Regions from separate parts of the Homo sapiens genome. Here region 2 is linked to region 1. A link means that fine-mapping ties the variant in region 1 to the expression of a gene that starts in the linked region. Tissue or cell type: testis. Region 1 holds a variant in brackets; the other region holds the start of a gene. All regions are shown on one strand. Distances are between the middles of the regions.

What was found. PIP is the estimated chance that this variant, and not a neighbour inherited with it, causes the effect.
Region 2: POLR1D starts here. The variant in region 1 is fine-mapped to the expression of POLR1D in testis (GTEx, PIP 0.97).

Annotation. Positions count from the first base shown.
Region 1 is chr13:27,554,092-27,562,196 of GRCh38, reverse strand. It overlaps LNX2 (ligand of numb-protein X 2), which reads left to right. Exons shown (of 10, transcript NM_153371.4): 6 at 2,212-2,355; 7 at 5,784-5,961. Among named protein-coding and RNA genes, the nearest start is that of LNX2, 62 kb to the left of the region's middle. The variant T/C (reference allele first, on the strand shown) is at 4,958.
Region 2 is chr13:27,617,574-27,625,678 of GRCh38, reverse strand. POLR1D (RNA polymerase I and III subunit D) reads right to left here and starts at 3,787. Exons shown (of 2, transcript NM_015972.4): 1 at 3,670-3,787; 2 at 2,230-2,804. The coding sequence starts at 3,695. The coding sequence ends at 2,429. LNX2 (ligand of numb-protein X 2) reads left to right here and starts at 5,150. Exons shown (of 10, transcript NM_153371.4): 1 at 5,150-5,304. RefSeq lists silencers at 3,531-4,090, 4,711-5,600 and an enhancer at 4,394-5,122.

The DNA of each region.
Region 1 (8,105 bases):
TATTTACAGAGCGTAGGCTCTACTGTTTCACATTCATTTCTCATTTGGGTCCTGGGTTCTACTATTAAGCCAGATGTAGCAGATGATATGTCCACCTTTTAGAAGTGAGGAAAGGGAGGCTCAAAAGAGCTGTGATTACCAAGGATCTGACTTACCTGGTCTCTTAACTCCCTGTCAGGATCTATATAAATAGAGGAAGAATAACTCTTATCTCTATAGTGCTTTGTTGTTGTTTCTAAGGAATTCACAGTGTTTAAAATACATGATAAAATTTGTCCTCATAGCATCTTTGTGACATAAGTAAGGATAGTCATTATTAGAGAAAGAACATGTTTTTCATAAAAGCATGAAGATGGATAAGTTGGAAAGTCATCCAGAGGAGATCTATACATTCTGCAACATGCCATAGCATTTAATGATATGAGCAACTTCTACAGTGATAAGGGTGCAACAAAAAGATGTTTTTCTTAAAGTTAGCAAAACAAAACACTGTAAAGGAAACCAAGAATTATGTAATTGAGGATCAGGAAGTAGGGTAGGCCGATAGTCATTGAAGAATGTGTTTACAACACAGAATCAAATAACAATGAAAATTTAAGACTATAAGAAAATTCAAGTCTCAACTCTCTTTATTGTATTGAGAGGAGATTCTGATATTGGTCTAATTTCATAGACTTGAGGTTTAAAGAAATTGGATGCCTTAAAATTTCCTCAAATCAAAGGCAACATTAGGACCTATATCTGTGGGTATTAGCCAGCAGCTGCACCACTAAAACCCAGCTCATCTTGTAAGAGTGGAGATTAGTGGGAGGGAGGGGAGAAAAGAGGAGGAGGAAGAAGAAAGCTAATAGAGTTATAGCATCTGTTTGAGTAAAAGAGTCAAGTGAGAGGCCAGATCAATAAGATAGAAAATAATAGATGGACTATATGTATTTCAGGCAATGTTTAAATTATCTAATCTAGTTCATTCAATTGGATGATTCTAACTAAATTTCTAACCAAAATGTGAAAAATACAGATACACAGATAGAAAATGTATTTTAAATTGTCCGTGATCATATTTTATATTTGGATGTTATAAATAGTTTCAACGTATTTTGTGCTATAATTTTCTCCAAATAATGGAAAACTAAAGTTGCTCTGTTTCTTTTTGAAAATAAGTAAAAGCGTTATTGTTTTTGGATTTTAAAAAATAACATATACTCCATGTCTTAAAAGGAGACCAATAGTAAATGATTTTAGTAAGGCATTAAACTTGTTTCTTACTTCTTTTCTAATGTAAGATTTGAAAATAAAGTGATTTCTTAACATTATTGACTATAATCATGGGAGAGGTCTCCACTTTGTACCACAATTTCTTTAAAGCAGGCTATCATATTTTCCCATAGGAATTACAGTAAAATTGGGCATTGTGGTCATGACCAAGAGTCAGCATCAAATAAATTAGACTTATAATTTAAAAGGAAGTATTAAATAACTTGTAAAAATGTAACCAATGTAAACATATGTTCAAAATATGATAGCTAACAAGCCTCTAAATTTAAAACGACAGTCATGAACCTCTAAAATAATTTAACACTGGAGACGTGTGTCACATTCACACAAGTATGCTATATATATATATATATATACACACATACATATAAAGTCTTGTTATGCAGGATTTCTGTAGTCATTCTTTTCAAGAATGTTGAAGCCGATATCCTACTTTTGACTCAGACCTATAGCAGCAGAAACAAAGCTGTGCAGAATTTCATTATGATTTCTGAAGTAGCCACCATGGAAATTTATTTCAAAAGTCACAATGGACTTTAATCAAGTTTTGAAGCAGTTCTTCCTTTTATTTCCTTTGCTCTGTCTTGCAATATTAAGGCCAACCTTGAAGATGCAAAGAAGTATTACAAGAAAAGTTACCAATCATGGGGCAATAAGAGCCCAGGCAGTGTGACCACTTTGCCTTGGTCATTTTGGAGGTGGGGTTGCAGACGGCATGCCCAAGATTTTTGTGTGTATGTGCTTCAACTGCTGAAGTTTTAAGATATTAGCTAATGAAATGAACTCATTCCTCTTGCCACCAGGTGCTTGCAGTCACTGTCCAGATGACGCCCTGGTACAGTGATTAAGAAGTTCATTGAAAATTACACTGTGTGTAATCTTTAAAATGACAAACATCATTAGTCACTTATGGTAATGTATTTGTGTTTTCTCCAGGCCAGTGGAGAGAGAGTGAATTTAACAATTGCTAGACCAGGGAAACCCCAGCCTGGTAACACCATTAGAGAAGCAGGAAATCATAGCAGCAGCAGCCAGCACCACACACCACCACCGTATTATAGCAGACCAAGCTCACATAAGGTGAGGATTTTTTTTTTTTTTTATGCCACCATCAAAGGATCATTGTTACAAGCTGGTAAGATTTAAATGAAGGTTTTTTTGTGTGTCAGTCACACCTCAATAAAGCAGTTTTTTTAAAAAAAAGATTCAAATGAGGGTTGTTATTCTGTTGAAAAATATAGGTGTTTGGAATATGAAATGTATATGTTTTGCTACCTTGGAAAGTGACTGCTTTGTTCCTTAGATCTGGAGATAGTTTCTTGGAGGGGAAGTTTCCTTTGCCAGGCGATTAACAAGAAGCGTGAAATCTTCTATCTGTTTAATCCTACTTGAAAGTGGAATTTATCTTGGGTTGCTTATTTAAATATAAGAGTTAGTTGATGAAAAAACATAAGACAAGATTGACAAATCTATGCTTAATAATTGAGCCTGTTGCCTACAGAACCTGAATTAGATACATGAAGATTAAACATATGAATCATGAATTTTGATAGGTACATATATAGCATATTTACGTATTTGATAGGTACATATATAGCATATTTCTTTTTATGTTAAAGCTTAGAGGAATATTACCCTAAATCATTTAAAATTTCCATATGTTAAGCTTTGTTACTGTTTCTTCAGAATCAGTATTTCACTGGTTTTATAATGTATTCTACCTGAGCTGAGAATTTTGATGCTACCTCACTTTCAGTCCAAAAATCTGAAAGGATGATACTTTAGCATTCTTGATATTATTTACTTCATTTCATCCTTCATTTGAACTCTTAACTTCCAGTGGGCCAGAAGTTTTAAAACAATGATGTTATGCTTACCCAATTATGCAAAAATAAAAGCTAAATGTGACCTACCAGAGTAATTCTCCTTAAGTAAAATTAAATTGCTTTACTAAGCAAAAACTTATTTATTGTCACCTGAAAGTAACATTTGAGTGAATAATTAGCTTTGGAGTCTGTCTCTGGTACCCTAAGAAAGCATAGCTTAAAGACACAGTATTTTTGGCCCATTGGGTTTATATGGTTTTCTGAGCTTAAGTTCTCTACAGACTTGTCATTGGTCTTTGATTTAGTTAATACTAAAAAGAAATTATAATCACAGACTTCATTCTCATTTCTGAGCAAAACCAAAATGTATGAAGGAAACCTATAATTTGCCTTTAAATAATGACTGTGGAAAAGGGGTAATTGTTTTAAACAGGACTTTTTGAATAGGTGTTGTTTCATATAGCTAGTCCTTGCTTTACAAGTTTTTTATACATATAAAACTATAATATAAGGTACAAGTTGATAATTGAATCTTTTATGTTATTGAATTTTATAATTTGAGATAGGGGTGTATATAACAACATTATAGTTTTAAGAGAGTTTGAAAAACTGTAATTAATAATTCCAGTATTCCTATAGCAAACTCTCCTTAATTCAATTTGTTGTGGGCACATGTATTTTTCTGTCATAACTATGCTAATTCTCATTCTCTTTAATTTTATATGACAATGTTCTAAATAGTGATGCTGAATTTATTCTATTCCAGGCACTCTGCAAACCTGGCTGGTTAGAAAAACCACTTGAAATGGAATGTGTTCATTTAGCTATTTACTACTAAGATGCTCCATTTGTTTTGTCAAATCCTGATACAGAAAAGTAAAGGTCTCCTAGGGAAAACACATACACATTCACCAAAACAATCTTTTCAGACAATTATAATCATTCTGAAAAAATTAAAGTATATATTAGTCTTCTATAAAGCTTCCCAGTAGCTGTTCTGATAAACATTCATGTTTGTTTTAGGAAGTTCCTTGAAGCAAACTGAGTATAATCTTTGAAGTTTGGTTGGGTTCCTGGGTAAAAATTGCATACATTTTAGACACCTAGAGTAATAAAATACCCACACTTTGCTTAAATATGTAAGGGCTGAACCTGCTTAAATGAATATACTCAAGGTTGAGTTTACCTGAGTTGTCTTCAGAATAAAGTTGTGTTTGTCTAATTTTGAAGGCTGCTGACAAAAATTTCATACCTTTAGATAGGAGATTGCCTTAAAACATTTACAGATTTTCTCCTTGGTCATAACATTTTCTGGGAATACTATGCTGCTATTACACATAGCTCCTTTGGTAAAATTTCAAGAGTATAGATTTCACATCTGGAGAAGGGTAGATAGGCCTAGAATTCCAGGCCCTGATTTAGAGATTTGATAAATGCCATTATTAACAGTTAAATACATGTCAATTCTCTAATGTGATTTAAGGAAATGTTATAATTCTGTGAATGTAATTTGTATTTTTTATATTATTAACAATTTTAATTATCTACAACATTCTCTTAACAGTTAATAAGTGTTAAAACCTTCTGAGACATTATCTTACACTGTACACTTAATGGGATAGTTCTTGTGTAGGTGCATATATACAATATGTACATGTAGTCTATCACACTATATAAACATATACAAAATACTATTTGTATTAATATATAGTACATTCTTTTAACATACGTAAATTTTGAATCCCAGGACAGTTGCCTATATTAACATGATTCAGGACAAGTTACATGACCTCCCTAAGTTTGTTTCATCATCTGTAAAATGGGGTCAATAATAATATATAATTTCAGGACTTTTG[T/C]GAAGGTTAAATGAAATAATGCATGTAAAGGCATTAGCTTTTCACAGGCTAAGCCCAAATGTTAATTATTATTTTAATATTAATATTGCATATGTACATCTTATTTTTTACTGAATTCTAATTCAAAAGAAAAGTGATGTTTTAAATTCTTTTTCTTCCAGGAACATCTCAATAATAAGTAGTAGTAACAAATGTCAGTAAAAATAGGAGATATTAATTTGTTGGGAATTTATTTCCCTGTCATTAACTTTTTCAAAAATTCAGTCATTTTATATCCTTTTAGCTTTTCATGAAGATTTTGAAGGTAGATTTGCATCTTCTTCATGATTGAGCACTCATAGTAGTAGTCAGTGAGAATCAGGAGATAGGTCGATGACCTTTTTCTGGCAGTTGCCAAAATCTACACTTTTGTACTACTCTGTCAACTTTTCTGTCAAAGAAATGGGGGAAAGATGGAAGTAAAATTAATTGATTTGTCTTCAGAATCTTAAAACTCAAAAGCATCATTTACTTTTGTGAAGTTGATCAAACATGAAGCTCAAACAAATTATACAAATGATGTGCTTATTTTACTTTGACTGCTGTATTTCAGCAGTCCTGAGTTTTTTCAGCTACATAAACAGTCATGAAAATAACATAGTCCAAAATTTGACATTGATCCACAGCAGACTTATTAAGAACTGTGTATTACTTTCATTTGCAATTAAGGAATAAAAAATAATTACTTTATAAATGCCATGTAAGTTATTACCTTAGTTTGAAGTAATAACTTTACTTCAACTATATTTTATTCATTATCCAATGATTTTTTTCTTGTATGTTTTAGGATCTTACTCAGTGTGTTACATGCCAAGAAAAACACATTACTGTAAAGAAGGAACCACATGAATCCCTTGGCATGACCGTTGCTGGGGGCAGGGGAAGTAAGAGTGGTGAGCTGCCCATCTTTGTGACCAGTGTGCCACCCCATGGCTGCCTTGCACGAGATGGCAGAATAAAGAGAGGTAAGATGGGATCTTGAAAAATTTTACCACATCTTATTTCTGAATTAAATGCACATTTAAAAAAATAAAGAATATCTACAAAGTATCTATTAAACATGACTTTTTTAAGTTCTTTAAACTGTCCCTTGCATATGGAAGCATAAAGTCATTCTATGAGGTTAGAAAAATGCCTTATATAAAGGAAAGTTGCTGAACCTTGATGACAGTTCCAGAATTTGCTAACAGTTACTCAGACTCTTAGATTATTTTATCTTGGGAAAAGATCCTCTAGCATTACAACAGACTTAGATACTCCAAAGGGCCATCTCACTGAAAAATGTTTCTTTTAATAAAGTGTCTGTGTAGAAGGGGACTCAGAGAGGAGGTGGAGCAGAAGACAAAATTAATTTTAGGGATAAATGCATTTGCCATTTCATATTCCCTATCAATGCTATATAATTTGCATAGATGGGGGTTGCAGCTAGCCACTATTGCCATGGTAAAAATAGCAGTCTCCATTGACTTAGTTTGTATATAAGGTAAGAAAAGTGACTCTGAAAACCTATTTTTCCAGGAATGAAGTTGAACCCCTACCTCACACCATAAACACAAATTAAATCATAATGGATGCAAGATCTAAATATAAGAGCTGAAATTCTTAGAAGAAAACACAAATGTAAATCCTCATGACCTTGGATTAGGCAGTAGTTTCTTAGATATGACACTAAAAGCAAAAGCAACAGAAGAAAATATAGACAGACTGGACTTTAAAACTGCAAACTTTTGTGCTACAAAGAATACAACCAAGCAAATGAAAAAATAACCCACAGAATGGGAAAAACATTTGCAAATTATATATATGACAAATGACTTGTGTCTAGAATATATATTCTTACAACTCTAATTAAAAAGACAGAAAACACAACATAAAGATGAGGAAAGAATCTGAATAGACATTTCTCTAAAGAAGATAAATAAATGGCCAGTTTTCCCATGAAAAGATGCTCAGGCTGGGTGTGGTGGCTCACGCCTGTAATCTCACCACTTTGGGAGGCCAAGGCAGGTGGATCGCTTGAGCCCAGGAGTTTGAGAACAGTCTGGGCAATATGGCACAACCTTGTCTCTACAAAAAATACAAAAATTAGCTAGCTGTGGTGGTGTGAATCTGTAGTAATCCCAGTTAGGAGCTGAGGTGGGAGGATCACCTGAGCTCCAGAGGTCAAGGCTACAGTGAGCTGAGATCATGCCACTGTACTCCAGCCTAGCATCAGAGTGAGATCCTGTCTCAAACACAAATCAAAACCACAGTAAGATACTACTTCACAACCAGTAGGATGACAATAATGAAAAAGACAGCCAATAACAAACACTGGCAAGGATGTGGAGCAGTGGAAACCCTCATTAATTGCTGGTGGGAATATAAAGTGGTACAACTGTTTTTGGAAAACGGTTTGGTAGTTCCTCAAAGAGTTAAACTGATTCCTCATATAGTTTCCATATGACCAGCAATTCCACTTCTAGAGAAATGAAAACAGCTGTTCATACGAAAACTTGTATACCAGTGTTCATAGCAGCATTATTCACAATAGCCAGAAAGTGGAAACCACTCAAATGTCCATCAGCTGAGGAATGGATCAATGGAATGTGGTCTACCCATACAGCAAAATATGATTTGGCCATGAAAAGGACTGAAGTACTGGCACAAATTACAAGGATGAACCCTGAAAATATTATGCAAGTAAAAGAAGCTAGATATAAAAGACCATGTATGATTCCATTTACATGAAATGTTCAGAAGAGGCAAATCTGTAGAGACAGAAAGTAGATTAGTAGTTGCTTAGGGTTGGGGAAGGGAAATGATGGGTATAGAGGGAGTGATTAAAATGTTCTCAAAATTACTGTAGTGATGATTGCACAACTGTGAATATATTAAAACCATAAAATTATGTTCTTTAAATGGGTGAATTGAATAGTATGTGAATTATTTCTCAAGCTGCTATTAAGTAAAGGTTATTTGTCCAGTTGTAGTATTGGGGTAATTTTATTTCCTTTTTGTTCTTTTATTGTGTTTTCTAAATTTTCTACAATGAGAATGATTTGCTTTAATAATCTGAAAAACTGATGATAAATTGGGAGAGATAAATTTCTGTAGACTTTGTAGCACA
Region 2 (8,105 bases), 63 kb before region 1:
CCTCTATTTTTTTTTTTTTAATCAATTTATGTCATCTTTATGGCAAGGACTCATAAAATTTGTCTCCAGCTTAGATCTCTTCCACGATCTCCAACTCACATAGCCACTGCTTACAATGTTCACAAATGAAACTTTTGACTCCTATCATCTTTTCCACCTCCCAATCTATTTTCCATTTTAAGCTTCCCAATTTCAGTAATTGGCCCCAAAGCTAGGCAGTAGTCATCTTTGATTCTTCATCTTCCACAGTTCCTGAAGTGTACCAATTCTGTGCCAATTCAATTCTAAAATATACCTCAAACCTACCTTCTCTTCTCCATCACTAGCTTCTACCCTTCCAGGCCACTTCAACTCTTTATAGTGTCTCTCTCTGCTTCTACTCCAGCCTCCCTATAATTCATCTCCCCCCACTCTGTAATCAAAGTAAAGAAGACGTCATTCCCACTGAACCTAAAATCCAAAATCCCTACTACCCCAACTCTTCCTCCCATGGACTCCAGAGGACAGGCCCTTCTCCTTGTCTACTGTGCTACAAAAACATGCAAATCTTTGTTCAATATCTTCAGTTCCTCATGCCACCAGTTTTCTGCTTTAGGACCTTTGCACATGCTATACCCCCAGAATGCATTTTCTCTCCTCTTTGCACAGCCAGCTCTCTCCCTTCCTGTAATCTCTAGAACACCTTTCCTAACTTCCGTGCCTAAAGTAGATTCCTTTCTTATGTTTTCTATCTTGACCCTACATTTGCTGCTTTTACAGAATTACAAGTTTTTAATTTTATATATTTTTTTGAGACAAGGTCTCCCTCTGTCACCCAGGCTGGAGTGCAATGGTGTGATCATGGCTCATTGCAGCCTCAACCTCCTAGGTTCAAGATATCCTCTCGCCTCAGCTTCCCAAGCAGCTGGGACTACAGGCATGTGTCACCATGCCTGGCTACCTTTTTTATTTTTTTGTAGAGACAGGGACTCCCCATGTTGCCCAGGCTTGTCTCAAACTCCTGGGCTCAAGTGATCCTCCCACCTTGGCTTCCCAGGTGTGAGCCACCATGCCGAGCCTCACAATTTTTTTTTAAGGGGCTCTTATAACACATGCTTTATGAGAACAGGACTTACTCTGTCTCATCCACTATAGCTATATATCTATCCCCAAGGCCTGGAACATACTAGTGCTCAAAAATATGGATATCTCTTTAAAGAATTTGGCTGAGTGTAGGAAATGTAGGCTCTATGGCACGCTAGTGTAAGAGGTCAGGTTTGAGTGACTGAAAAGCTGCATGCCATAACTACTTACATGAATTCATAGAGTATTTACTAAGTGTCCACTACCTGTCAGGTGTTCCAGGTACCAGAATCATGTTGACCTCCAAGTTGGTTTAGTGGGTAAACAAGATAAGCACTACCAATAGCATAGTAAATGCCAAGGCCAGGAAACACAGGGTGTAATGAAAGCACAAAGAAGTACCCAAACTAGGCTGAGAGGCCTGACACATAAGCTTTGACTTAAGAGTACGGCAGGAGTAAGACTGGCCCAGGAAGAGGGGATAGATAAACAAGGGCCCAAAGCACAGAGCACTGGCGGGTGGGATATGTGTTTTCCAAAACAGTCATTTCCCCTATATGGAATTTTCCTTCTCCTTGGCTTTACCTTCTCTCAAATAGGGCTTCTTCTACATTACCCTAGGCTATACCTACTTAAGGACTGAAAATGTTTTCTAGTCATCCCAATTTTCTCCTTCTGTAATATAATCAAAACATCTTACCTTACTTAGATCATGACTAAGTATATCCCAAAATTCAAGCAGTAAACTGGTATCTTTCCTGTAAATGCCTCAAAGATGGAGCCTTACTCCCTAAAACTCTCATGTAAAACCAGAATTCTCACACTTCTTCCAAATTATTCCCACCCTTGCCAAGTCTACCAATCACAGCAAATGATGCAATTCTTTAAAAGCCAAAAAGTTTAGCAAGAAGCCAAGTCCCCACCCCAATCTTCTTTCCTTCTGTTTTTAAACAACAATCTAACTGGGGTCATGGTTTTTGTCTCTTCCCTTACCCCCACCACTCCAACTACAGACATGGATATATACTTCTTTTAATTCCCATGATCACAGTTCTTGTCTAGGCCTCTGATATTCTCAGTTTCCTCATTTTCAATGCTGGCTTAATTAGAAAAAAAGTCATCCTCAAGGACCATTTGGTTGCATGGAACAGAAACCAGTCAAACTAGTTTAAATAAAAGAGGGAATTTATTAGAAGAATACAGAGGTTCTTGCAGAGATTCCAACAGCTGCAAGGGGTCAACAGCTAGAATCACGCCTTTCTGAAGGACAGAGTATGCTGTAACCACAAACTTCTAATTCTGGGTTCTGCACCATCAGGAAGAGAATATCCTACAGGACAGTTCTCCTTGTATACTGCATAAAGGACTAGAATGTGGATTCATTTCTGCTTGCTTTTTGATCCTTATAGTCCTTTATGCTGGCCTCAAACTTGTCAAGCACATGTTGGCAGACATTCATGAGCTCATTCAGGCCTCTCTGAAATGGCTCAACAGCTGGAAGGGTACCTCGAGTCTGAATGCGTAAATTAATTTTGCTCTCTGAAGGATGGGTCGTAGTGTAACCACAAAATTCCACTTCCGGGTTCTTCATGATCATGTAACGTAGAGAATTTCCTAGGGTATGGTCTTCCTCGTGCAATACAAATGTCACACAGTGTCTATCTGTTCCAGCTGCCTGGACCATTTCCAGGGCTGTCTTCCTCTCGCCTTCAGCCATTGAGGTCTTCAATCCAGATATTTTTCTACACACATATTTTTTATAAAAATGAGATCATACTGAATATTGTTTTGTAACTAGCTTTTTCTCATTTACTATATCACATTGCAACACATTATTATTAATCTACTCCAGCTACACAGAATTATTCGCCTCTCATTTTCCTGCCTCCACAAACTCTATCAATAAATATTTAATTTATTGCCTCCAGTTTTTCCCTGCTCCATTTGACCATCCACACTGGCCACAAGGGGAGTTTTCTTAGAAAAACACAAACTTAAGTGTTTGCAAAAATATTTTTTGGTAGAGTCACAAGCAAGGGATAGGATTAGAATAGGACTGGTCCTGCTAGAGGATGAAGAGAGGGTTGAAAGGCATAGAAATCCCGATTGCTCTAGTATAAAAATAGAGGATACAGATGATCAATGTGCAGGCCCAACTACGGCTTCCATTTTGCAAGAGAAGGAAACTAGGAGAATGGAAGGTTCAGGAGTCAAGCAGCAGGGAGAAAAAGAGCTCAGCGCACAGAGTGGCTTTAGGAGCAGTCTGCACATAGAAAGAAGGTGAGCCGTAGTTACAGGGACAGAGGCACGAGTACCGTCCTCAGGAGCAGAGGCCCGGGGCGTGATTTTTACACACTGCTGTTGTAACGGGGGTGGGCAGTTCGGATACTTAACTCTGGTCTCCCAACTTGTCTTCCCTCCTTGATAGCTAGTGTACCTCTCAGCCTCTCAACTGAAACACATTCATGTCTCCTCCCCACTTCTCTCTCCATGCTTCTTCTCTGCGCCCCGAGTCAGGCCCCGGCTGCCAGGCCAGGCAGCGTGCCCCTCGGCCACCCGCTCCCCTTGGGCGCGGCCCGCTCCGCCCGCCTCCTCCTCGGCCGTTACCTCTCCAGCTCCTGATCCTCTTCCATCGCTGGGGCGGTTTCTGGATCCTCAGGTGGTGCTGGCGGATCGGGGGCTCTGTCCCATAGCGCGAGGCGCGGAGGCGAAGCAGGAAGCAAGGACCGACCGACGGAAGGCGCGGAGGACGGAAGGAGGGAGGAGGAGCCGCAGCGGCGCGGCAGGGCCCAGCCGCGGGGCGGGGCATGAGGCTCCACCCCCAGCCCCCGCCCCGACGCGGGGTGAGCGGTGGCTCGCGGCCCCGCGGCTCACCTGGGCGACCACGCGAGGCCACTCGCGGCGGGAGGGGCAGGGGGCGGGGCCAGCGCCGCCTTACCCCGAGGCCCAGACAGGCCTGCGGGCGCCCCGGCTCAACTCTGGTACCTTTCCCCAGGTGATGGCGAAGGGGCGCGGCCTTACCTGCCGCCCCCAAATCACTTCCCTTCCCAGTGGCAAGTCCGAAAGCGGCCCGACTTCCCAACTGGGGCGGTGTTGACCCAGGATGGCCCTTCCTGGGACCCCGGCCCTCCCGGGCCTTTTGTGGGACGACAGGCTTAAACTGTAGTCGGTCAACACACCTTGAAGAGGGAGGGGGGTCACGTGCGAGATGAGTCACCACAGAATACGAAGGTTGAAGGCGGTATTTGTTTCACCGGGGAGCTTGCAGTTGCATTTTCAACTGGGTCAAAATAGGGCAAGAAAGAAATGTCTCTTTTGGGGGAGTGAGAGTTTGGGAGAAAACTGTTTCCCACCTTATCCTTTCCGTCCTAGGATTCCTTCTACCCCCAGAGCGCGTCCTCTCCGGCTGTAGACTTCCTTTTCCCTTTCTCCCCAGTGGCTCCTCAAACCTCCTCACCTGCGGAACCCGCCCTCACCTTTGTTCCCAGGCGCCCAGCCCCCGCCTCGGCAACCTTTCGCCGCCCAGGCTCGCTCTCCATCCAGCTCCCTGCGTCCCGGCCTTCGCTGTGCTCCCTCAGGTGCGCTTCCTCTCGAATCGGCCCTTCTTGTCCCCTCGCCGCTGGCCCCGACCCTGCCCGACTCCAGCTGTCCAGCGCAACTACGTTTCTGCTTCCCTGCGCCACCTGTTCTCCTGGCCTCCCCCCACCCCGCCCCGCGATTCCTCTGGATGTTCACTCCTTCCCCAGCTGTGCCACTCTTGGCGGCGGCCGGGGGTGCGCGCAGACACCTAGCCAGCGGGGCTTCCGCAGGGGAATCAGGCGGGCGGCGGGGACAGCCCGGGGCGAGTGGGGGAGGCGGGCGGCGAGGGCGGAGTGGTCTCACTCTAACCCGGGAGTGACGGGTCCCTTCTGGCCCGCCTCCCGAGCTCTCGGATAGGTGGAGCCGCCCTCTGGTCCGCCCACCTCCCGCCCTGTGCTACCTCCGATTGGCCCGGGTGCGGGTTGGGCCGCTCGGCCTTGGCGCTGCCCCCGGGAAGGCAGCAGGGGCGGTTGAGAAGTGAAGTCTTGGCCGGAGTTTGCTTTTTGCCAGGAAATCCGCGGCGGCGGCGGCGGCGGCGGCGATTCCTGGCGGAGCGGAGCCGGGCAGGCTCTCCGCTCCCTCAGCGGGCCGCGGAGAGCGGGAGCTGGTGCCGAGCAGCGGCGCCAGGAGCCCGTGCGCGGCCCGGGCAGCCGCGCTTTCCCAGTGAGTAACTTTGCCCTGCCCGCCTCGCTGCGCGCCCTCTCGCTGGCTGCGGGCAGCCGCCTCAGGTGCGGGCGTCAGCTGGGTGTGGGTCAGCGCCGCGCCCCGGGAGGCGGCCGGAGCGGCGCCACAGCTCGCCCCGGAGCCTTGGTCCTTCGCGGCTGTCTTCGCTCGCCCGGGCTGCGGGGCTGGCGTGGACTCGGGTGTGGGTCTGGTCCAGGAGGGAGAGTCGGCGCCCGGTGCCCGCCGCCTGCAGGCGCCCGGGAGGCGGGCGGCCTCCGGCTGTTAGCGTTTGCTGGTTCCGGCCACCGTGGTGCAGAGCTTGGCGTCGTTTGCTTCTTAAGGGAAGGGAGAGGTGGGGTGAGTGTTTAAATTTCCTCTGTGTGTGTGTGGTGTCGGCAATGAGAGTGGCACTAGCTGCCTTTATCGGGTTTTGTTCTCTGGAAAGGGATGGGGAGAGATCATTCCCTCCGCCCCAGCCTGTTGCCTGTGAATTCTCACCTTTCTCTTTAGGCTGGAGAGGGTGGGAGAGAGATTTGACATCTTCCAGGGGGTAATTTAAAAATATGAATCTTGATTTGGAAGCAGTTGCACACAAAGCATCATTCAGGAAATACATCACTCGCTTTTCAAAGCTGTATGCCACGTTTTAAACAAGGACTTTTGACTCATGTAGTGTTTCTTTTAGTATTTCAGTTTACGTTAAGTTTATGAATCCAGACGTTCGTTTGTACCAGGAGCTAAAGTACACTTATGCATGGGCTTTGCTGTGTATATTATGCTTTTTAAAATCACAGAAATCAGAAACAAAGTTGAGTGAAAAGCGGTGGCGGTGCAGGAGGAGGAACACTTGTGAGCTCCAGCTTATTGGAACTGCCTTTAAGAATTTCACATTCTTGCGGCAATAGTACTTACTTGTAAATTGGCCTTCTTCCCAGGACAGGTTTTGATATTTCTTTTGCATGTACTTCGATGCAGCACTAATGAAGTTGGATCTCAGTAGATCAATTTTATTTACTTTGCTAGATTTGATTCCCACCCCCACACCTCTTTAGAAAATGGACTTTGGCAGGTAAAGAAGGAAGCGGGAATCTGGTATCCTTTTTGGCTTGTCAAAGCTTTGTTGAGCCATGAATAACAAAGTTTTGGCTTTTTAGCTTGTCCGAGTCCCACATGTGAGTTTTCCCATGGGGTAAAAGTAGGCCAAATGAGAACCAAAGTAGAATAACATCACTTTTAATTCGGCCCACTTGTGTGTTACATTCTCCATATATCTTGTTTCTCTCATCAACTTTGAAATTTTTTCATTATTTATTCATTTAGCCACTGATAAAGTACCTACTGCATGCCAGCCATTGATGGCGGGGGTTGCTTCTTGCCCAGTTTTCTCATTTGGAAACTGATCCATGCCTTTATCCCACTAGTTACCCTGAAGTAATTTGAACTTAGGGAGCATTTCTGCCTGGAGACCTGTAAGAATAGGTGTTACGTAGGCACTTAGTCTTCAGATTGGTTTGGGATTTCGTACATTGTAGGCACGTAGCACGCAGGCCACTTAAAAATAAATGTATGTGTCTTTGGGCTGTTGTATTACGAGCTTTGCATATGGGCTTGTCTGGCCGAAGGACCCAGTGTCCGAGGTGGAGGTAGTAGTCAGGGACATGTATTATTCATTTCAGAACACTTGGCACCTTTTCTTGCTTACATTGGGCACTAAAATATTTACTGAATTGACTTGAACAGAAAAATGAAGGATTTTTTATACCAGATTAAGAAATTTGGACTTTATCCAGTCAGTGATACTGAGCTGCTAATTTTAAGCAGGAGAATGTCATGATAACGGGTAAGCATTCCAGAAAGATATCTGCAGCGTCTGGAGGATGGTGGGCTTCCAGATGGGCGATATGGAGACTAAGTTGGAGGCTGTTCTAATGGAGGGGTTAAGTGCTCAGGGATTCTCTATTCAGATTACCTGGGGTGGAATCAGGCTCTGTCATACACTGAAACCTCTTTGTTCCTTAGGTTTGTCATCTCAGAGTTTGGGGGATAGAACTTGAAAAAACATGTCTATTACTTAGAATAGTGATTGCCAGATAGTAAGGACTTAGTAAATGCTAGTGTGCTGGCAGTGGAAGGAGAAATGACGTGGTGTTTAAGAGGTATGACTAGGAGGCTGGACTAGGTAAGTGACTGGGTAGGCTTAAGGAGGGAAGGATGAATCCTGGGTTGTTTGACTTCAGGCATTGATTGACATGTACTGGGTAAGCTGGCTGTGAAATTAAAACGGGTCAAATTCTAATTCTATTACTTACCCTTAGAATAACTATCCTGACAGAACTTTGATTTCCTAACATTTGGGAAATGATTGTCGTACCTGTTGAGTAGGGTTTGAGGAATTATGCATGTAATGCCTTTGGCAGGGTACCTAGCACATTCCAAGTGCTCAGTAAATATTAGTTGTTCCTTTAGATGATGACATTAATGAGCTAGTGGAATGTTGGAGGATATGAGAAGGAGCAGTTAAAAACAATTGATGGTAGAGGTGTAGAAGGGAAGATAAGTTCAGTTTTGGACTAATCTAAGGAGGTGCTAAATGGATGGTTGAGAGATCCATGATGCAGTTGTTGGATAGTTGTGTCTCACAGGAGCTAGGAAAGAATAGAAAAGAAAAAGAGTTCACAGAAAGGCTTTATGAGTATGGTAAGCTTTATGAGAGATTTAGAGGAAGGGGAGGGTGAAGGGGTTCACAGTGGAGCGATATCAGAAGTGTTGACATTGAATATTAGGCATTTCTATCCTTAAAA